2 separate regions of the Homo sapiens genome follow, and region 2 is linked to region 1. The links come from fine-mapping of genetic effects on gene expression. A gene starts in region 1. The other region holds a variant in brackets. All regions are shown on one strand. Distances are from middle to middle. Region 1 holds the start of LONRF2 (LON peptidase N-terminal domain and ring finger 2). Region 2 overlaps LONRF2 (LON peptidase N-terminal domain and ring finger 2).

The links. PIP is the estimated chance that this variant, and not a neighbour inherited with it, causes the effect.
Region 2: its variant is fine-mapped to the expression of LONRF2 in blood mononuclear cells (TOPMed, PIP above 0.99). The same link has a PIP of 0.9 or more in T cells.

The regions. Positions count from the first base shown.
Region 1 is chr2:100,320,642-100,325,033 of GRCh38, reverse strand. It overlaps LONRF2 (LON peptidase N-terminal domain and ring finger 2), which reads left to right and starts at 2,533. Exons shown (of 12, transcript NM_198461.4): 1 at 2,533-3,619. The coding sequence starts at 2,941.
Region 2 is chr2:100,287,382-100,291,773 of GRCh38, reverse strand. LONRF2 (LON peptidase N-terminal domain and ring finger 2) reads left to right here. Exons shown (of 12, transcript NM_198461.4): 10 at 1,354-1,516. Among named protein-coding and RNA genes, the nearest start is that of LONRF2, 33 kb to the left of the region's middle. RefSeq lists an enhancer at 203-843. The variant ATGG/G (reference allele first, on the strand shown) is at 2,596.

The sequences.
Region 1 (4,392 bases):
GTGGAGTGTTCTATAAACATCAATCAGATTGAGTTGGTTTGTAGAATTGCTCAAGTCTTCTATAGCCTCACTGATTTTCAGTATACTTGTATTAATTGTTGAAAGAGGGGTGTTTTATTTTTAAGTTCTGGGGTACACGTGCAGGATGTGAAGGTTTGTTACATAGGTAAACGTGTGCCATGGTGGTTTACTGCACCTATCAAACCATCACCTAGGTTTTAAGCCCCACATGAATTACTTATTTTTCTTCATGCTCTCCCTTCCTCGGTCCCACCGCCGACAGGCCCCAGTGTGTGTTGTTCCCCTCCCTGTGTCCATGTGTTCTCATTGTTCAGTTCCCACTCATAAGTGAGAATATGCAGCATCTGGTTTTCTGTTCCTGTGTTGGTTTGCTGAGGATAACGGCTTCCAGCTCCATCCATGTCCTTACAAAGGACATGATCTTGTTCTTTTTATGGTGAAAAAGGGATATTTAAATATCCAACTATAATTATTAATTTACCTATTTCACCTTACAGTTCTATCAGTTTTTGCTTCAAATATTTGAAAGCTCTGTTATTGGGAACACACGCGGTTAGGACTATTATGTCCTCTTGACCAACTAACACCTTTATCATTATGAAATGGCTGTCCTTTCTCCTAGCAATGTTCTTGGCTATGTAATAGACTTTGTCAGCTATCAATATAGTCACTCTAGATTTATTTTGCTTAGAGTTAACTAGAACATCTTTTTCCATCCTTTTACCTTTACCTTATTTGTATTTTCATATTTAAAAGTTCTTTTTTGGTAGGCAGCATATATCTGGGTCTTCCTTTTGACAATCTTTGCCTTTTAATTATGGTATTTAGACAATATTTAATGAACATTAACCGATATAATTGGGTTTAAACCTGCCATCTTGCTATTTGTTCTCTATTTGTTTTATCTAATTGTTTCCTTCCTCTCTTTTTATGCCTTCTTTTGGATTAATAGAGTTTTTTTTAACAATTTCATTTCATCTCTATAGGCTTTTAAACTATAGCTCTTTGTGTTATTTAGGAGGTTGCTTTAGGGTTAGAGGACACATCCTTAACTCATTACAGTCTTTCTTAAAGTGACATTATACCATTTCACATATAGCATTAGAACCTTACAACAGTATCCTGCCATTTCTCCTCTACCTGCCTTTGTGTTATATTTGTGATATATTTTATTTCTATGTGTTATAAACCTCACAACACACTAACATTTTTGCTTTAAACACTTCTGGCTCTCAGCAGGCATACCTCCGGCAAGCTTCTTTCTGTTCTCTTGCTAGATATTTGTCTAAAATAAGAACAAATAGGATCTGAGATCATAAGGTTTCACAATCTTTACTGTATGGTCTGTGCTCTGAAGCTTTTTCCCCATTGCTTCCTGATTGTTGGTTGTGAATTTGATGGATAAATGACCCTCAAATATAAGTGAATTGTTATTCTATAAAGAAAGCAGATAAAAATCCAAACAGTGATTGAAAAAGTGAATTTGAAATAATTCAGTAATGAAAAAGAGACCCAAACAGTACACTGTTATCAATTAAGTTAGGTAGACAGCTGGGGGAAATCCTTCATGGAAAAGGAGGTGGGTACTCTGCATTTGTTTATTGTAGAACTAGAGGGCTGGCCAAAAATTGCCCCTTTTTCCCTTTTAGGAACTGGTCTAAAATGTTCTCTCACTTAATGAGGCATTTCTCCTTTCCCAAAGCCAGATGTGGTCGAGGTATTGTATATTTTCTTTAGCCAGCAGTTTTAGATGTAGAAAAACCTCTCCAATTTTTTAAAAAAATTTATTCTTGAAATATGAACAGTAGTATGAATTCTAGAATATTGTAATGCATTTTATTGTATTCAAATACACAGGATAAAACAGATACTGTGACGACAGGAAGAAGGGAGCAGGCTACATAGGAGAAATACATAGGCTATATAGGAGAAATTATGAACCCGGTTAATACGCACAGAGGATTTTAATTTAAACCTTGCTTGTACACCAACGGAGCGTTTAGCTCCCTCTCCCCAGCAACTTATGTCTGCAGTACTCCATACTAGGGCACCCTTTCTATTTCTATTCTAATTCTATTAATTAGAATTCTATTTCTAATTCTATTTCTGCTTCCTAATCAAGGGCACAATACAATTGTCCACTTCTCGAATCCCTCCTCCTCCTGGTATCTGGTTCTCTTGGCCCTCCACGTTCTCTGTTAAAATGAGTTCTCAAAGGCCTCAGCCTAGAGTTAAGAGAAGAAGCTCGCTGAGGCGGGGCCTCTGGGTGCCCACTTCAGCCTCCCCAGTCATTTAGGACAATTTCCTAAGTCGAAGCTAGAGATGCGTGATGCGTTTGGTGACTTTTCCTGGGTTCTTGCTTAAGCGGAGCCACAGGTTGTGGGGGCGGCCAGGCCTCTGGGGAAGAGCAGGTGCCGCGGTGCCGGCGCGCCAGCAGCCCGCGGCCAAGGCCACCTGCTCCCAGGGCCCCGGCACCTCTGCGGGGAGGCGGCAGGCAGAGGACGCGCGCGCAGTCGCGCAGGAGCCCTCAGGCGAGTGGGGGAAGCATCGCAAGAGACGCGGACCTGGAGCGCGGTCACTGCGTTACCGCAGCGACCTGGGTTACCTAAGCCGGCGGGACTGAGAGGCCGCTGCGCGTGGGCAGGGGCTCAGATTGCGCCCGCGGTGCCTGTCCCGGCCCCCACCCCGGAACGATTGCAGCCCTGCGGGGCTCGCCGCCCACACCGCGCTGAGGACGCTGCCCAAGCCAGGCGCCCGCCCCCGCCCGCGGTCTCAGCCGCTCGCAGCGCGCCGCCCCCAGACGCGCGTGGCTGCTGGCGAGGGCTGAGACCGCGCTCCCGCCGGCCAGTTCCCAGCAGCAGCGCATCCTCCCTGCTCCGCGCCTTCGCTCCGGACCCGCGTCGTCGCAGCCCCGCGGTGATGAGCCCCGAGCCGGTCCCGCCGCCGCCGCCGCCCCAGTGTCCTGGCTGCGACCGCGCGGAGCCGATCGCCCAGCGCTTAGAGGAGGGCGACGAGGCCTTCCGCGCGGGCGACTACGAGATGGCAGCCGAGCTCTTTCGCTCCATGCTAGCCGGGCTGGCGCAGCCGGACCGCGGCCTGTGCCTGAGGCTGGGGGACGCGCTGGCCCGCGCCGGCCGCCTCCCCGAAGCCCTGGGCGCGTTCCGCGGCGCCGCGCGGCTCGGGGCGCTGCGGCCGGAGGAGCTGGAAGAGCTGGCGGGCGGCCTGGTGCGCGCCGTGGGCCTGCGCGACCGGCCGCTGTCCGCGGAGAACCCGGGCGGCGAGCCCGAGGCGCCCGGCGAGGGAGGGCCGGCCCCGGAGCCCCGCGCGCCCCGCGACCTGCTCGGCTGCCCGCGCTGCCGGCGGCTGCTGCATAAGCCGGTGACGCTGCCCTGCGGGCTCACAGTCTGCAAGCGCTGCGTGGAGCCAGGGCCCGCGCGGCCGCAGGTGCGGCGCGTGAACGTGGTGCTGAGCGGCCTGCTGGAGAAGTGCTTCCCGGCCGAGTGCCGGCTGCGCAGGCTGGCAGGCCAGGCGCGGAGCCTGCAGCGCCAGCAGCAGCCGGAGGCCGCGCTGCTCAGGTGCGACCAGGCCCTGGAGCTGGGTGAGTCGGCTGCGGGGCGGGTCCGCCTCCCCTACACCTGTCCGGCCCAGCAGCGGGGTGGGGAGCTGGCCGGTGGGCCCGAGGCTTTGGGCTTTCGAGAGCTTTGTCTAGGCTTAGGGGTCACTTTGCTTCCTAAGGATGGGAAGGTGAAAGGTGGGGGCGGCCACACCCTGCAGCCAGGAGAGGCCAAGTGCACCCCACTGGTTTTGTCTTTTCCAGGATGCTGGTAAGTTTCCCGCGGCCCCCGGAGCAGCTCTGTAAGGTCCTGTAATTGCTTTTCGGCATCTTCTGCGCTGTTGAGGAGCGGGGAGGATGACGAAATATTTTTGCTCATCCTGAAGGAAAATGCACATAGCTGACACACTACAGGCGCAGAAAGGGGTGCCTTGTGCTGGGGCAAGATTTGCTTTGGGTTTCAGCTAATATAGCCAGGAAGGAACCGCCTCCACTCTGCTGTAATCACGTCAAACGCTCCGGCTCTAGCCTGCTCTCTGTCTCAGAGGCCATCATTAGATGTCATGGCGTATTTAACTTACTAGATAGTTACACTGACTAGTGTGTGTAGTTTTAAATTGTTCATTCAGTCATTTCCTTATTTATCTGAGGCCTAAGGCCAGCAACAGGCACTCTCCTGCCTTCACCCAGCCACCACCTGTTAACACTATTTAGCTGAAAGGAAGACCAAACTTCTGTCATCGTTTTGGCTTTGACATATGAGTATGCGCTCTATTGGCAGTTGTTTTGGGCAGTGTGAGGAGGACGGTTTGCTTTCT
Region 2 (4,392 bases), 33 kb after region 1:
CCACCCTGGGCAGCATGGAGCAGGAGGGACATGCAGAGGTAGGGGCTGTGAAGGGCCGGGCTGGTTAGAGAGGGTTCAGGAGAGCAGAAGCATTAGCTCAGCAACAGTCTGCAGGGCCGTGCCTTAGGGAGGTCAGACAGGAGCCTGTCAAGTGATTTGAGCAATTCAGAGGGCATCTCTGACTTCTTTTGGAGTCATTTTAATGGAACGGTAGGATATGGAGGAGTGAGGGGGAGGCAAGGAGATGAAGGCAGTGGCCGGGGACTGCTTTCCACGGCACTTTGGTTGGGGAGGGCAGAGCTGGCAGAATTGGAATGAGGTGAAGACCTTGTGGGCGAAGGCAGGAGGGAGGAGGAGCGGAGTGCCTTTGAAGGTGGAGGACTTGCTGCCCCAGCAACCAGCACCAGCAGAGGCCTCCAGATAAACGTCAGCTCCTCCAAGCCTGCCTCACTGCAGGGCATGACTCATCAAGGAGGCTCTTATCTGTGGACAGGATCCTGTGTGTGATGCAAACTCCCTTTGTGAGTGCAGCTCTCCAGACCTGCACTCTGGTGCCAGCCCACACAAGGTCATTGGCAATTTGTTTAAAAAAAAAATAGCTGAATGCTTCCTACACACTTTTGTGTCTCTTCCTGGGTTCTGCCTACTCTCTCCCTGTGGGATCTTTGTTTGGTTACCCTGAGCAATCTCCACCCTCTGGTGGGTTCAAGAGACATATGTTTTGTGGTTTATCTGGTTTTCCTTGTCGTTTTTCACATTCTTTTTAGTGTTCTATATTCTCAGTGCACATGGAACTCATAGCTTGTTTTTTCACTTTGTTGACTTTTGATGAATCAAATTTTAAGTGTGGGCTTGAATTCATATGTATTATAAACTGCTCCGTGTGTTGCTTGGCACGTGGTAGCATGAGAATATCACTAGGATAAGGGTGATAGTTACAATCGGAGTGTGGGTAAGAGCTGGGGAGAGCTTTGGAAAGCCGAGTGTGTGCGTGGCACCAGCTGGGCAGTCCTGATGGTGCCCCGCCAAGGTGGCTGAGGAGCCACATTTGAGATTTCATCTCTTCCCATCTCTCGGGTCCTTCCCAAAACACTAGCCCGTTGGAACCGCTAAGGCACAAGTCCTGTCTCACCTGGAGCCCTTCCCCTGCAGCCACCATCACCACTATATTTAACATCTAACAGAAGCGACCATGTGCACGTGTCTCTTAGCGACAATAACCTTGCTGGTCTGATGTGGAGACACTGTTTTGTGTGGCTTTGTATTCCTTTTAAAAGTAAACTCTCATCCAGGGAAAAAGAAGGCCCCCTGCATTTTAAAAATCACAGTCATTTCTCCTAACTGTCTTTTCAGGCTTTCAGAGTATGGATGCATGCTGGAGATTAAGGACGTGAGAACGTTTCCTGATGGAAGTTCTGTTGTAGACGCGATTGGCATCAGTCGGTTCCGAGTGCTAAGCCACCGCCACAGAGATGGCTATAACACAGCGGACATTGAATATCTTGAAGATGAAAAGGTAAGGCTTATCATACTGGTGTATTTTATAGCAGTCGGTCCTCTCGCTTCCCTTTGCATTGTGGAAAAGCTTTGTCAAACTTGTACTGACAATATTACTTAAGTCCTTAATTCATCACTTAAGTTATTTATTTATCTATTTGTTTATTTTTGAGTCAAGGTCTTGTTCTGTCGTGCAGGCTAGAGTGCAGCAGCATGATCTTGGCCCACTGCAGCCTTGACCTCCCAGGCTCAAACGATCCTCCTGCTTTAGCCTCCCGAGTAGCTGGGACTGTAGGTGCACACCACCACACATGGCTAATTTAAATTTTGTTTGTCGTTGAAACAGAGTCTCCCTGTGTTTCCCAGGCTGGTCTCAAACTCCTGGGCTCAAGCAGTCCTCCCACCTCAACCAAAGTGTAGTAGCCCCAAAGTGCTGTGACTACAGGCATGAGCCCCTGCCTTCAGCAGTTATTTATTTTCTCAGTGGATTTTTACCTGAGTTGGGAGCTGGTACAGAAATCTCCTTTTAAAAAAATGATCTGGCCAGGCATGGTGGCTCACGCCTGTAATCCCAGCACTTTGGGAGGCCAAGGTGGGCAGGTCACGAGGTCAGGAGATTGAGACCATCCTGGCTAATACGGTGAAACCCTGGCTCTATTAAAAATATAAAAAAATTAACCATGTGTGGTGGCGGGCACCTGTAGTCCCAGCTACTTGGGAGGCTGAGGCAGGAGAATTGCTTGAACCTGGGAGCTGAAGGTTGCAGTGAGCTGAGATCGTGCCACTGCACTCCAGCCTGGGCGACAGAGCAAGACTCCATCTCAAAAAAAAAAAAAAAAAAAAAAAGACCTTATTGTACTTATGCAACATGTAAACCTGCGCATTGCAAAATAGGCTTTTGATTTGTATTTGATGCTGTAGCCCTGGAGCTGGCAAACTTTTTCTGTAAAGGGCCGGCTAATAAGTACTTTAGACTCCAGAGGCCATGTGGTCTCTGTCGAAGCTACCCAGTTCTGCCCTTGTAGTGCAAAAGCAGCCATAGACAATGTGTAAAGGCATGAGCATGACTGGTTTCCGTTAAATGTGACTTCCGGAAAC[ATGG/G]TGGTGAGCACGGTTTGACTCATGAACAGCAGTCTGTCAGTCCCTGTTCTCTAGGTTGGTATTAATTCAGAATGTGACAAAATCTACAACTTAAAAAATACCTCCCAAAGCTAAATATAAAAGACTTGAATTTATTAACCCTTAAGAATTTTTTCATGTGTCTAATAGAAATATCAGGACATATAATTTGACAAATTAGCAAAATGTTTTGAGAGATTCTCCAACAGACTTACACAAGGATGTCCATAACAGTCTTACTCCATTATAGCCCCAAACCAGGAACAGCCCAGGTGCTGATCACACTTGAGTCAGTAAACACATTGTGGTCCATTCATGCAATGGAATACTACCTGTCAATAAAAAGAAATGAACCACTCGTGCATGAAACAATATGGATGACTCTCACAGACATTATGCTAAGTGAGAGAAGCCAGACACAGGACGAACACATACCGCGTGGCTTCATCTGTATACTTCCAGGAACAGGCAAAACTAGAGTCTGGGGACAGAAGTCAGAAAAGGCTTGTGGGGTTGGCTTTGTAATTGACTGGAGGGAGTGGTGAAGAATCTTTCTAAGTAGTGGAAATGTCTATCTGGTTTTGGGTGATGGTCAGACTGGTGTATACAGTTGAGAAAACTCTTTGAGCTCAACAAGATCTATGCACTTTTTGGTCTGTAAATTATACTGCAGCAAGAAATTTTAAAATACTTAAAAGGAGGAAATCCTTGGAATTATTGTATCCCTCTTTTAAATTCTTTGGTTGACATTTGGAATTGTGGAAGTGAGGGTACGTAGCCACCCCACATCACACTGGAAGTCATTTTGGGGGCAGTGGTGTACACTTAGGATTTGTGAATGGAGTCACACCCAGGACACTGTCTCTGTGCCTCCTCCAGCTGCTGTTTCTGGTCATCCCAGTGCATGGGAGCAGAGCAGGGAGCCCAGCTCCCAGGCTGGACCAGAAAGCTGGGTTTCAAAGCTACAGCTGAAAGTGATAATTCTCAGGGTCTCTCTGTGGGATGGATAGACCTGACGGCAGGGTTTATTGACCGTTGTTGTAGATGACAGCTTTTAATAGTGTATGCGCTTATTTTAAATGGGGGCTTAAATAGCTACAACATGAAATAATTTTAGCTTATTTTTATAAGAAAATCCTCTATCACATATGAATATTTGATTTGTATAAATCAAATTGAGGGTGGTATATGCATTATATTATAATTTCTCAGCACACCGTAGTTTTTGTAGGTACTGGAATTTTGTAACAGGAAAGGACCTTCATGGTTTATTCCTATTATGCAGATGAGAAAACTCTGCCCTAACGAGGCTGTGAGACTGGCTAGATTCACACATGAGAGTTGGTGATGAAGCCAGACCAAACCCTGGCCCCGTGATTCCCAGTCCCATGCTCTTCCTCCTCTACCAGGTGTTCCTGAACAGGACTGAGGCGTAATTTAAATGACAGATGTGATAGTGACATAGGGACCAGAGGCCAAGCTTGGTCAGTCTAAGGTGCTGTGGCCGACCACAAGCTGGAGTCCATCAGCCCAGGCCAATGTAATGAGTGTAGTCTTGCCCTGTCGTGCCTTTAGGAATATAGTTTGGTGATATGGAATACAATTTTTAAAATGTCACCCTTTGACTTGGTAATTCTGTCAAGGTCTCTAGGAAACTACACTGAGGAAACCATACCTCCCTCCCTTGTCAAAAAAGCAAAACAAAACAAAACAACTTTTCCATAAATGTTTATATTATTGTGTTATTTTTAAAAATAAAAAAGCTAGAATATTCTA